Linked DNA regions of Homo sapiens: all the other regions are reported to be linked to region 2. The links are microRNA targets in miRTarBase. Many come from high-throughput screens and were not tested one by one. Region 2 holds a microRNA gene; each other region holds the end of a gene's coding sequence.
Evidence for each region. Region 2 holds the annotated microRNA hsa-miR-3149 (UUUGUAUGGAUAUGUGUGUGUAU, at 1,616-1,638, shown strand). A microRNA usually pairs through its seed, bases 2 to 8, with sites in the 3' UTR of a target mRNA and lowers its output. Matches are read on the target gene's strand: a 7mer-m8 pairs with bases 2 to 8, a 7mer-A1 pairs with bases 2 to 7 and ends in A, and an 8mer does both.

Region 1: the mRNA of KIAA1549 is a reported target of hsa-miR-3149. The part of its 3' UTR that is shown has no 7-base or 8-base seed match.
Region 3: the mRNA of ZEB1 is a reported target of hsa-miR-3149. Seed matches in the 3' UTR shown: 7mer-A1 at 2,439-2,445, 7mer-A1 at 2,432-2,438 and 7mer-m8 at 852-858.
Region 4: miRTarBase lists ST13 as a target of hsa-miR-3149. Seed matches in the 3' UTR shown: 7mer-A1 at 2,771-2,777.

What each region holds. Positions count from the first base shown.
Region 1 is chr7:138,835,075-138,838,259 of GRCh38, forward strand. It overlaps KIAA1549, which reads right to left. Exons shown (of 20, transcript NM_001164665.2): 20 at 1-3,086. The coding sequence ends at 2,832. Among named protein-coding and RNA genes, the nearest start is that of ATP6V0A4, 38 kb to the left of the region's middle.
Region 2 is chr8:76,965,231-76,968,415 of GRCh38, reverse strand. It overlaps MIR3149 (microRNA 3149), which reads left to right and starts at 1,566; the gene lies at 1,566-1,648.
Region 3 is chr10:31,526,659-31,529,843 of GRCh38, reverse strand. It overlaps ZEB1 (zinc finger E-box binding homeobox 1), which reads right to left. Exons shown (of 9, transcript NM_001174096.2): 9 at 40-3,172. The coding sequence ends at 2,580. Among named protein-coding and RNA genes, the nearest start is that of MACORIS, 180 kb to the left of the region's middle.
Region 4 is chr22:40,823,692-40,826,876 of GRCh38, forward strand. ST13 (ST13 Hsp70 interacting protein) reads right to left here. Exons shown (of 12, transcript NM_003932.5): 12 at 844-2,975. The coding sequence ends at 2,847. Among named protein-coding and RNA genes, the nearest start is that of SLC25A17, 5.9 kb to the left of the region's middle.

The sequences.
Region 1 (3,185 bases), not on the chromosome of region 2:
CAACTGTTCATTGTAGAGTGCTTCCATAAACGGACTCCAAAGCCACACGCTGTCAACGCAAGGACCCTTCCTTTCAGTGGATGACGTGAACTTAATGTCTGAAGACCGCTAGGGTACGGTGCTGCTCACACAGCTAGTTTTTTCTGAGTTTGGTGACTGGCAAAACTGTTGTGGCAGGCGTCGAGAGGAAGCAAGTACAAACTGTGTGTGCTTTATGACCACCAGCAGAGGGCTGGTGATCCGGGGGCCTGCTCACACCACACCATAACCACCGGCTGTTTATTATACATCATCTTTGGTCTTGACATCTGTTTAAAGGTGTATTGTTTCTAAGAATAAAAATACAGTTAAAATCCCTTTATGGTAGTTTGAAAGACATCAAAATTGCTTTTACGGTCAGCCCAATTTGAAACAGAACCCTCTTTCTGCAATGCTCAAAGGAGGTTACCATTTTTAGCACACTCTATGTGCAAGCCTGTATGGCCCTGAGCGGAACTGGGTGAGAAGGGGCCATTTATCCCGTTTGCTGTCACACGATTTGAATTCATTACAAGGTGTCCATAATAAAATTCTGCTTGGATATCTGAAATTCTTAATAACATATTCAGGAAACCTGGTATTTTTGAGTGACATACAAAGATAATCGTTCAATTTGGGAGGAGTCGGGTATTAAACCAAGACCAAGAGAAATTTGGTATTAAACCAAAACCAAGACATCAAGCCCAGAAAGGGGCATTCTCTCCAATGCTCCTTGGAGCCTCTGAGGATCGCCTGATAAGATGCTGCTGGTCCTTTGTTGAACGTCCTTGAGAGACTTACTCTCCTGCACTCCTTCTCTTTCAGAGGTGCCCAGATGAAAACTGGCTACATCTTACCTTCCCAGAACCAACTTCCCTCATATTGTAAGACTCTAAATCTGTACAACAGGCTTCATTAATGAAGGGCTAAAACATGGTTTTGAAATCCAGTGATTACACTTTGGAAACCTGTTTTAGCTGTTTCAGGGGTCTTAAAACTTGACACAGATACACAGGTTTTGATCAGTCAGAGCCCCAAATTCTATAGCCCCTTATCTGTTATTTAATGAAAAGTACAGTCATGCACACATCAGGATGTTTTGGTCAATGACGGTCTACATATTGATGGTAGTCCCATAAGATTATAAAATTGTATTTTTACCATACCTTTTCTATGTTTAGCTATGTTTAGATACACAAATACTTACCATTGTGTTCAGTACAGTAACATGCTGTACAGGTTTGTAGCCTAAGAGGAATAGGCCATGCCACACAGCCCAGGTGTGTAGTAGGCTATACCATGTAGGTTGTGTAAGTACAATCTAGGATGTTGGCACAGCAACAAAACAGCCTAATGACACATTTCTCAGAATGCATCCCCATCATTAAGCGATGCATGACTGTCTTCGCTGATCTAATAAAAACAGGTTAATAGTGAAAATCTCTTAGCTAAGCCTGCTTTTCTTCTGAGTTTCACTCAGGTACCAGAAAACAGAACAGCCCTTGCCACTGTTTTCTTTACCATTATTTGGAAAGTGGGGGAAATGTTTACATCAGGAGTACATCTTAAGCGAGATGATCCCCTCTTAGCCCAAAGAGCATAAGACAATTTTAATAGCCACTCGACAGAGTAACAGCACAATAAAATCAGAAATGAGAAGCAACTCTCTCCTTTCCCTTGGGGTCTCAAAGCTCTTTTACATTTCTTGATTCATTACAGAGAGGCTGAACTGAACTCAATTTCATTTCCAGGCTCTGAACACAGGGAATGTGACTGGTAGGGATGTATGTATAACAATTTCGTGGTGCTGGGAATTATTAAATAACTTCTGCTTACAGAAGATTTCTCATTCAGACATAATTTGTGAACAAATCAACAGCAAAGTGGAAGAAAGGATCAGTTAGGACCTCTTGAAAGCCGCATTCTACAGGATCGGCCTTAGCGATCGGTGCTGAACTGGGACATGACCAGGAGTTGTGTGTGCCCAATTAAGAAACAGCAAATACAATGAAGAATGTAGATCTAAACTTTGATCTGTATTTTGGATAATCAAATAAATATAAAGCTTTTTGCCCCACTTTGGGAGGGATTTTTTTTTTCTAGAACAAAATGAAACCTTCAACATATTCTTCCACTGAAAAAGCCAAAGTTCCATTTCAGACATGAAGGTGAAGGGCCCTTGGAGCTGTAGCACCAGAAGAAGGAGGAAGAATGCGGGTGATGGCTTTGTTTGGAGTCATCAGGCTCTACAACCTATCATTTGGTTTCTCACTAGTAGCTTTTTAAAATTCCCAAACAGTCTTAGTATTCTTGTTGTTAATGTTACTATTAAAATAAGTTCCTATGGAGTAAAAGAGAAAAATTAAGCTGTTAATAAAATGTCTTCAAACCTCTTCTCAGAAAACAAAGCAGCAGGTTCATCGTACACGTACCAGTCTCAATCCCACAGAAACGCTTGGTTCCTTTCATCCCTATGCTGTCTATACAGTTTAATCTCTACCTTTAAAAAAGAGACGAATGCAGTCATTTTGTTAGCTTAGGTTTGTGTTTTGTTTTTGTGAAGTGCTGCTGGCTTTTGGCCAAAATACATATATTTCAACTGAACCCAAGTGTTCAGACAATTGCCAGCCCAGTGAAAGGCTCATGAGCTGTCACACGACGTATGGCATCTTCTAAATTGCAACTTGCTCCCTCCCTTGGGCAGGCTGCCCGAGAGTTGCTCCTTCCTCTTCCAAACACCCACTCAGTTGATTTCCTTTTGGTCTTGCTTCCACAGGAAGCGGATACTTGGCAAATCTGCGAGGCGAGGCCGATCAGCTGTGGAAGTTCTGCACGGTGCTCTGTTTCTGGGAGAGCCGGAGGAGCTCCTCGCGGATTGCTTTGATGAGAGAGGCCGAGGAGTGGCCAGGCTGGAGGTCTTCCGTGGAGCTGGTGGGGTAACCCAGCCCAGGGCCCTGCAGTCCCCGGTGGGGGAGGTTCCCGGAAGGAGCTGAGGGCTCCCTGCCTGAAGTCCTTGGCACCTGAAATAGCGGTGAAGAAGAATACTCTTGATGTCCGAGCATGTGTGTCTGAAAAACATGGCAAACGTCACTGTACTTCCTACGAAGAATAAGCCGAAACATCAAATGCAAACTGGCTTTAGGAAGGTTCCCAGGACTGCCCACGTC
Region 2 (3,185 bases):
CACACATGGGTGGATAACTGGTAGCAAATTCAAAACCAACAGATTTCTTCGTATTTGAAACAATGACATTCATTCTTTTCCCTGGAATCAAAGCAGAAATATTAAGAGAAACAAAAGTTTTCCCAAACCTAAATCCTTTTTCTTCAATCGTGCTTAAATTCACTGTTTTTTTACCCCAGAGTAAGGAAGTCAGGCAGAGGGCTGGGGGAAATTCAGGAAGTGTCCATCTGTCAATTAATGGAGCTCCCGAGAATTTTCCTCAGGTAGATTTCTTCCACTGATAACTTGAGTGTGGTTTTGTCTAATGTTTCAAGGTTGAGAAGTGGAAGATAGGTATTCAGTATAAAATATGGAGATAAGAGTGGGGGAAAGCCTGCAGACTCAGTGATGGTCTAAGGACATATATGATAAATGAAAATTTCTCAGAAGTACAAAAGACTTCTCTCAGAAGATTAAACATCTCCTAGAAGGCTTATGAAATTAAAGTCCAATTTTTTTAAGAACATCGTCCTTGGATTGAAAGGTTGAATCAAAAGCATGATAATTGAATTTACTTACAATACAGAGTTATGAGCTATTGCAAGGGTGAAGTGATAGATTTTCAAGATAACCAGTTTGGTTCTGAAGCTGGTCCTTATTTACTCCTCTGCCTTCCATTGCAGCTCTGGTTACCCACGTATTTCCTTTAATGAGTTAAGTAAGTAATGCCCATGGACTTGGTCTCTGCAGGGCCACTCCTATGCAGAGGTCTCCGCTTGTGTTTTAGAGGTATAAATATCTGCCCTTAGCTCTGCCATGGTTCCTGGCATTTAATCATCAATTGAAAGTAGTATGTCTATAAGGGCAGAGCATTATCTATAACGTAAATTCCATGCAATGTGCTGCCTTCTGTTGTGGATTTCCTGCCAGCACCAGTCAGAGATTAGAGGCAGCTGGAGTGGGAGAAAGGTGGCTCGGACACATACATCCGTAAACTATAGAACCACCAATCAAAATCTATTCTATTTCCTCATCTCCCTAACCACTAATTATTTTTTACACATTACCTCTTTTTACTTACTATCCTCTAAATTCATGTTCATTTTATTTTTATTATTTTTTTTAGAGGCGGGGGTCTTGCCATGTTACAGAGGCTGGTCTTGAACTCCTGGCCTTAAGCAATCCGCCTCGGCCTCCCAAAGTGCTGGGACTATAAGTGTGAGCCACTGCATCTGGCCCTCTAAGTTCATTGTAAACTGGCTTCTCCTTTATACAAGCTAAAACTTAAGACCACATGAATGATTAAGCCTAGCCTCCCTCCTCATTCAGCCAAATGATTAGTGAACACTTTTTTCAATATTTTTTTTTCAGTATGTTGGGCATTAAGAATCCAAAGATTAGAGTCTACCAAAGGAAAAGGCAATGGGAGTAAATAGACAAAGTGCTTGGAGAGCATTGAGAAATGAGTGATTTATTTCATCAGAGACCTGTAGAGGCCTTCCAGGGACAAAGATATTTCGGTTTAGTCTTGAGGTATGTAGGATATCTTCAGGTAAAGAAATTTAAAAAGGACATCAAAATGGGATATACATACATGTACACACACATGTCATCCACACACATACATATATATATGTTTGTATGGATATGTGTGTGTATGTGTGTGTATACACAGAACCGACAGATTTCCTCATGTCTGAAAACAATAACATTTAAGAATATCTTAAGAGTATATAAGTTCTTGAGATTTAACACCTGAGCCCCTAACATCCAAGTTTAGATGAGTAGTCATTCATTCAACAGATAATCATCAAGGACTCACAGTCTGCCAGACACTGCTAGGTAAGCATCAAGGATGCAAAGACAGTAAATACAGGACATGTTTTCTGCCCTTAAGAAACTCACAGTTTCCCTGAAAACTAGTTAATCACTATGGAAAACAGGGTCCCGTGAGAAAAGAATTTTATGCAAGAACAAGGTGAAGATGGAGTCATAACATAAGACATCCTTTAGGAAAGAAAGCCCAGGCTGGTAATCCCAAATTGAGATTTTTCCAGGGCCACTAGGAAAGGCTAAGGATGCCTTGGAAGAAAAAGGGAAACAAAACTAGAGAAAAGGCTGTTGAAAGAGGACAGACCAAGTAGCAAACAAATTTTGGCCGAAATGAACCAAAAATTCATCATTCTACCAGGTGGCTGGTACCCTTTTAGAACTTTTTATTCTGAGATGTGTTATAAGCCACTCTTTACAAAAGAGGCAACTAAGTAATTTTCCCAAGGTTACATACACAGCAAGGGTGAGAACTAAGGTCTTTCTGATGCAAAATCTACCCTCTTTCTACAACACCCAATCGCCCTTCAATTTTATCTCACAATTGCTACCAGAGGCTCATTGTTTAACTGGCTTGTCCATACCCTCTGCAATACACTGCTTTCAACAAAAATCAGAATTGTGTCAAAAAAATTTCAAAAAAAGGTCATGCATATGGAACTACCACTTAAAGTAGGGGCGATATGAGAATAGAAACCAACTAGAATGTCCTGAGTAGATATAATTGAGAAATAGGAGAGATATAGTATATTCTTGAGATACTTGGATACTTGAGAGGAAAAGCCCTTGTCCAGACTTTCTTTGACTCAAGAAAGGGAGAATAGTGATTCAGAAAGGGAAGAGTTATTATTGTTTTCTCAGGACTCAACATTGTGCCTCATCCATGGTCATACTCAATAATTACTTGTTGAATGACTAGAAGAATGAATATCAAGGGAAAGGGAAAACACTGGAGATGCTAATTTTAACTTACATATTGGCAAAGCTACTTTCTGGTGGTGATTTTTTAATAAAAATACCAAGTATTGTTGAGAGTATAGAGAAGCTAGCATCTTCTTAAACTACTGTATCAGTGTAAATTTTTTTGGAGAGCAGATTGGTTATATGCATCAGCAGCTTTAGAAAATGCCTCCTTTTTCACAAGAAATTATAGTTCTATAATTTAATACTACTAATAGAGGGATTTATTTACCAGGATGTGCATCTCTATTTACTATGGTGAAAATTGCCAACAACCAAAAATCTCTCAAAGGAGATACACTAAATAAACCATGCTGTAAAAACATGTAGTTTTTCTTATCTATTATTTAGTAAAAAGTAAAAGTTGGTTATAAACAGAATGTACAATATCATCCTGTTTTCCTAAATACAGAATA
Region 3 (3,185 bases), not on the chromosome of region 2:
AGAAATACACTTTCAAAAAATCAAAATAGTAAGGCAATAGAAAAAGAAGGCATAATTTATTGTGTCTATTATGACTAGTGTTTAATAAGACTTATAAGAAAATAATCAAATTATTAGATCATTTAACATATATTCTGGAATTAGAAGCAAAAAAAGTGAGAACATAGCTGAGCTCCATAAACATGCAAATTATATTTTTATTCAACAAATATCTGTTGTCCCAACTTATGCCAGGCACCCTGTTAGGCAGTGAGGAATGTGAGAGTGACTATGACAAATGTGGTTCCTGTTCCTAGTGGGGAAGGAATATAAATAATAGTATCAGAGGTATGATGACAGAAGTGCAGGAGCTGAGAGTCAGAAAGGCATCTAAACCCAGGCTTCCCTGAAATGACCTGAAGCATGAAATGCGGAGGATTAAGGATTTCAGGAAGAAGGAGCAACCTGTGAAGAGGTTTTGTCAACTCTGACCTCTCCAGAAACATTTAGCCACAAGAAAATCCATAATTTAGTGGAGAATGTCTAAAACATTTAGTGTTACCCAAATTCAGCTCAAGATGAATCAAATGCAGGATGACAATGTACCCCATTTCACAGTTTTCCAAAGAAAATACTGATAATGATGAAAAGAATGACAGCAGTTCAGGCTTGTTGATGCATTTTATTGTGAGATGGGAGTCTGGTAAAAAACTAGAAAATGACCATGATGTAACAAGGAACTTAAAAATGAAGAGTCAGATCTGTAACTTACATACATGAATACAGGAACAAATTGGCACAAAATGTTAAACATTGTTCCCAACACTGTTTATAGAAGTTAATCCTAATTTGGCTTACTAAGGAAATGAGAGTTGTATGGTTAGGCTGATTTCTTAATAAAACTGCAGAGCATCATGCTATTAGTCACACAGTGAATTTCAAAATTTAAGTTTTATATTAAAAACTGGGTAAAGGTAAAATGACTTGATTGTAGTTGTAAAACTAATACATTCCCATTTAAGTTCTGTTCTACAGTCCAAGGCAAGTATAAATGTTAACATAACACTGTTAAATCAAATCTCAATGCAGGAGAACCAATTGCATCTCTACTTTAAATCTTATCAACTTTCCAAATTTTCATACTAAAATATATTATTGTATTAATACAAACTACAGTATTATACACTACACTGTGTAATAAATAAAGAAATATAAAAATAAGACACATAAATATAAAAGTTTTCTAAAACTAAAAGTACATATGTCAGTAAGAAGGGTATTAATACTGCCAGGTTTGAAGACATACAGTACAAAAATGTTGCACAGATCTATAAACTAAAAGAAATAAAATAATACTGATAGGTAAAAATCAGCTAATGTTGTTAATAAATTGGGTCCATAATAACTAACATTTGGAAACAGTTATGAGCCAAATAACAATAGCATGTCCATGTCTGAAATGCAAGTACATGGATAAAGCAGATTAGAAAATTTCCCTTTCGTTTCTGTAGAGAAATTCTGAAAATCAATCAACATAAAATCAATACCGAGGAATTGAAGGATGAAATGTCCCAGTGTTTCAGTTTCTCTGACAGAGTCAGTGGTTTTAAGTTTTATTTGGGAATTTTGATACAAGAGACAAATCAACAAATGCTAGTTATTGTAGGCCACACATTGGATGAAGGCGGGTTAGAGCCTTGAAAATACTGAGAAATGGCACTTACAGCACACAGGTCTTGCTTAAGGCCAAAGGAGATACAAAGCTTCATGTCATATCCTTCATATGTTACCACATATTCAAACACAATCACAAACACTGATTCTGATGATTTTGCTGTCCTTATCAGATTAACATTGTTAGTCCCTGCAATCAGAACTCAATGGCAATCTTTTGAACTCCATTTTAAACCACGTGAGTAAGAAACTTCAGTTCTTCTATCAGCTGCTTTCTTAAGGCTAACAATACACTTTAAATGATAATACGCTCTACTAAGACATCTAAATATTAGAAATTACTACCTTCTAGACTGAATTTATAAAAGGTAGTTAGCACGGGTTGGAACTACATTATACTTCTCTGTGAAGGGAATTTTGTAGTGCAGAAGTTCTCACATTTTAAAAAACATAATAAAATACTGAAGCGGATTTAGCATATGTTTACCAATAAAAAATTATAAAATTTCTCCCAATTGTACAGCTTAAGAATAAACCAACATAAGAGTGATAATACTGATAAGATAAAACAATGCCAGATGCATATCTAATTAATCAGCTTCCTTTAACCTCTTGTATTGTTGCTCTCTGAGTCATTAAGGTTTTCTAATCTGCTGCATGTTACAAACTTGTTCCTAACTTTGAAAACTGCATGAAAAATTACTAGGTCTGAGGTTCAGGCACACCCGGATTTATTTTGTGTGTGTGTGTGTGTGTGTGTGTGTGTGTGTGTGTGTGTTTTGTATTTTGTATTTTTTTAGTTTTTACTTTACACAGTAGTGAACAGGAATCACAGCATACAGGTTACTGTGTTTCCATGAAAAGCAAGGATAATATTGAACGAAATTCATTATCAATTAGAATTTATTTTCCTTCTAGAAAAACGATTAGGCTTCATTTGTCTTTTCTTCAGACACTTGCTCACTACTCTCGCCTACTTTTTGTCCTAAGCTGCTTGCTTGACTTTCAGCCCTGTCATCCTTCATCAGACCTTCAGTTTTTGCTTCTTCTCCCTCATTCTCTGCCTCTTCTACCTCTTCTTCTTCCACTTCTTCCTCCTCCTCCTCCTCTTCCTCATCCCCTTGTGGTTTTTCACATTCTTTTTCTTCCTGCAATTCTTCCATCTCTTTATCCTCCTCCTCTTCCTCTTTTTCACTGTCTTCATCCTCTTCCCTTGTCAAACTCTCTCTCTCGTCCGAGTCGCCCTGTGAGGGAGACGCCCTGGCACCCACGTGCTCATTCGAGAGGATTTCAGGCCCTGCCTCTTCCTGCTCTGTGCTGTCACGTTCTTCCGCTTCTCTCTTACAGTAGGAGTAGCGATGATTCATGTGTTGAGAATAAGACCCAGAGTGTGAGAAGCGCTTTCCACATTTGTCACATTGATAGGGCTTTTCTCCAGAATGTAATCGCATGTGTTCAATCAAATGATGTTTGTGTTTAAATGCCTTTTTACAGATTCCACACTCATGAGGTCTTTTACCTGCAAAATAAGA
Region 4 (3,185 bases), not on the chromosome of region 2:
AGGTGTCACCCCAAGTCGTCTTTCCTGTTTCTACTCTTAAGTTTTTTCTTGAGCATGTGATCACACAGTTATGGATGACAAACTGGCTTTCCCTGCAGCTAAACATAGCCTGAACACACAAACTGACCAATGGGATATTAGAAGTAATAAAATGTTAACATCATATATTATCTTCAGTATCTCAGCGTGTTTCCCAGAGCCCCCTTCTCCTATTTCCTCAATTGGAGAATGAGCACCAGAGCAAGCAACTTTGGACTAGAAATGGAAGCTACCTTCTAAGTATGGCAGAATGCCTGCCTCTGAACAGCTACCCAAAATAAAGTACATGTTTTTTAGGGGTTCTTGTTTGCAGCACTTAATAGTCTGCAGCCTAATATACCTAGTAAATAACCTGAGTACCAGAGACATAAAATAGAACATATGCTACAAAAAGTCGGGGGTGGGGGGGGAAATTAAAAACTAGTTTTTGTTTTTTGAGACTGTGTTTCGTGATCTCAGCTCACTGCAACCTCTGCCTCCCAGGTTCAAGTGATTCTCCTGACTCAGCCTCCCGAGTAGCTGGAATTACAGGTGCCCAACACCATGCCTGGCTAGTTTTTGTATTTTTAGTAGAGACGGGATTTCGCCATGTTGGCCAGGCTGGTCTTGAACTCCTCACCTCAGACGATCTGCCCGCCTCGGCCTCCCAAAAGTGTTGGTATTACAGGCGTGAGCCACCGCACCTGCCCAATATCTAGTTTGAAACCGTATTTTAAAGACAGCTAGAAATATAACTATATTTTTAAGCAGAAAAAACTTCCTTCTGATAGCATCAGTACAAGAAAACATTTCTGGTTTAGAATATTGAGTTGAAAATTAAGAATGTATATTATGGAATTTAAAAATCTAAAAGCACAGGACACATTTTCAGAAGAGGAATTTTACTTTTACCCACTTATGGTAATATTTGCAATATTAGAATATAATTAGGTTAAATAAATCAAATAAGGAATCCAGAAGAAACTGTTCTTGAGTTAAGCCAAGTACACACTGGCAATTTCGAGAAAGGAGAACTCTACACATTAACAAAAGAACACACAAGCTCAAATGCAAGTTTATATGGTGAGTGTTTTTAAAGGATTTAAAAAGCATGCTCCATCAGCATAATAGCTTTTTCTCATTTATGTAACAGATGCATTTCTGTCTGCTTGTGTACAGCAAAGGGTTAGAACCTGAATAAACTTATTTATGATTTCAGAAATGTGGTATTTTAGAAATGTACTCCATAGAATTTACTTCACTGCTCCTACCACTGATTCTTCAAATAAGCAAAGTACAGAAGGCCTTATCCCTTGAAAATGTTTTTAAACACTAGCACTTTAAATTGAAACACTGGTAGAAACGTAGCAATGTCAGGTACAATGCCTATACTTAGTCTTATTTAAAATAAGAATTGAATGCACAACAGAAAATTTATCATTTTCTTTATCATTGGAGGGGAGGGAAAGAAAGCAAGCAGAGGTGGGGATATAGTTACACTATTTAAGAGCTGAATACAAAGACAATGAGTCTTTCATAGTCTCAACAACTCCACAATGAATAACTGTGGATTATCTCATTTATAATTCACATTGGATAAAAAAAATCGGTTCCCCTCTGTGTGTATCAATTTAATTCAAACCTTATCTTCAGAATACAAAGATGAATACTACAAGATAAACTAACTGCAATAGGTTTTTCTAAGTAGAAGACCAAACACCAAAGGGAATCCCTCTTTCCAATGTCTTCTGATAAGGCAAGATTTTGCCAGAATGGAAGTCTAACACTTAAATAAGCATTCTCTTGGCCAAGTAAGAAACTACAGTTGTTGTGGGTATTACCCTACAATTACCATATGTATTACATATTAAATTAAACTCAGCATTAAATATGCTTGTATAATTACGCTGTTAATGATGATAGCAGTGATGATGCCGGTGGAAAAAGCCTGTCTTTAGCTCAAGAAAAGTAAGGGAGACAAATGTAGCAAGCAGAAAGCAAACACAGATTTGGGCAATTTTTGACTAGGAAAGAGAATTTTAAGCATAGAAATATAAAAAGAAAAGTACTACCTTATTTCCCTTACGTGGAAATAATATGAAAAACACTTATTAGATATACTGGACAACAAGAGAACTAAGTACTCCAACTCTACTGCAGCATTACAAAAAAAACATCCCTTCACCACAGTGTAAGATTTAAGGGCAACCTGCCCAAGGATGCATGTTATATCAAACACAGCAAGATTGCTGCTGCCCTGCCAAGTACTTCCAATCCCTACCCAGGTCCTACTGAAATACGGGTGGTCCCAATTAGTTTTATTGAAATAAATCTTTAAAGAAAAAGATAAAGCATTTAAAAAGACAAGTCAAAATGCATCAGGAACCACATATCCAACACAAACTTTATCCTCAAATGAGTTATGTTTGCCTCGCACTAATAACTTTTATTTCACTCAGAGCAGTAATCTTCCATACATAAGTATATTCCCTGCCAATAATTCAAAGAAAAAAATCCAAAATGATTAGTAAAGAAAAATATAAGAATTAACAGGCCCTTTAAATTTGTTTTAAATATTTTGAAGATTTAAAAAGTGTTTAAAGTTTGTAATTCCTAGTAGGAAAACATTATCTGAATGAATACCCTAATGGCAAACCACTGTAAAATGCTTCAGCTGCATTTGGGGGAGAGGGGTAGGGATTATCTTCAAAGCACCCCAGCTCTCTTGATGAGAAGGTCAGAGGTACACTGGTTTGTATTATTGCGACATCCATAAGGTGATCTAGGTTGCTTTTCCTTCAGCAAGGGCTTTATTTATCAGAAGGACATTACGCTTGACCTCCAAATTTGGCTGACAATTTACTGATGAGATTCATAACCTTTGGGTTGCTCTGGTATTTTGACATATTTGCTGGGTTCTGAGCCACATCCTGGAAAGCCACCATAACTTCTGGATCCTGAAAAGAAAGGGTTCATTAGTATTTAAAAAGTGTCCTACTGGGTCAGTAAGTTTATTATCCTAAATTCCATCTCTTATTTAGACCTGTAATTTGGTGATAGTTAAGTTAAATGGGGTTTAGATGAGTGCTTGAAGTATCAAAATCAAGCTGAATTAAGTCATTTGAACTGTATGATGAAAAAAGCACAATTTTGATACAAAGAAAAGG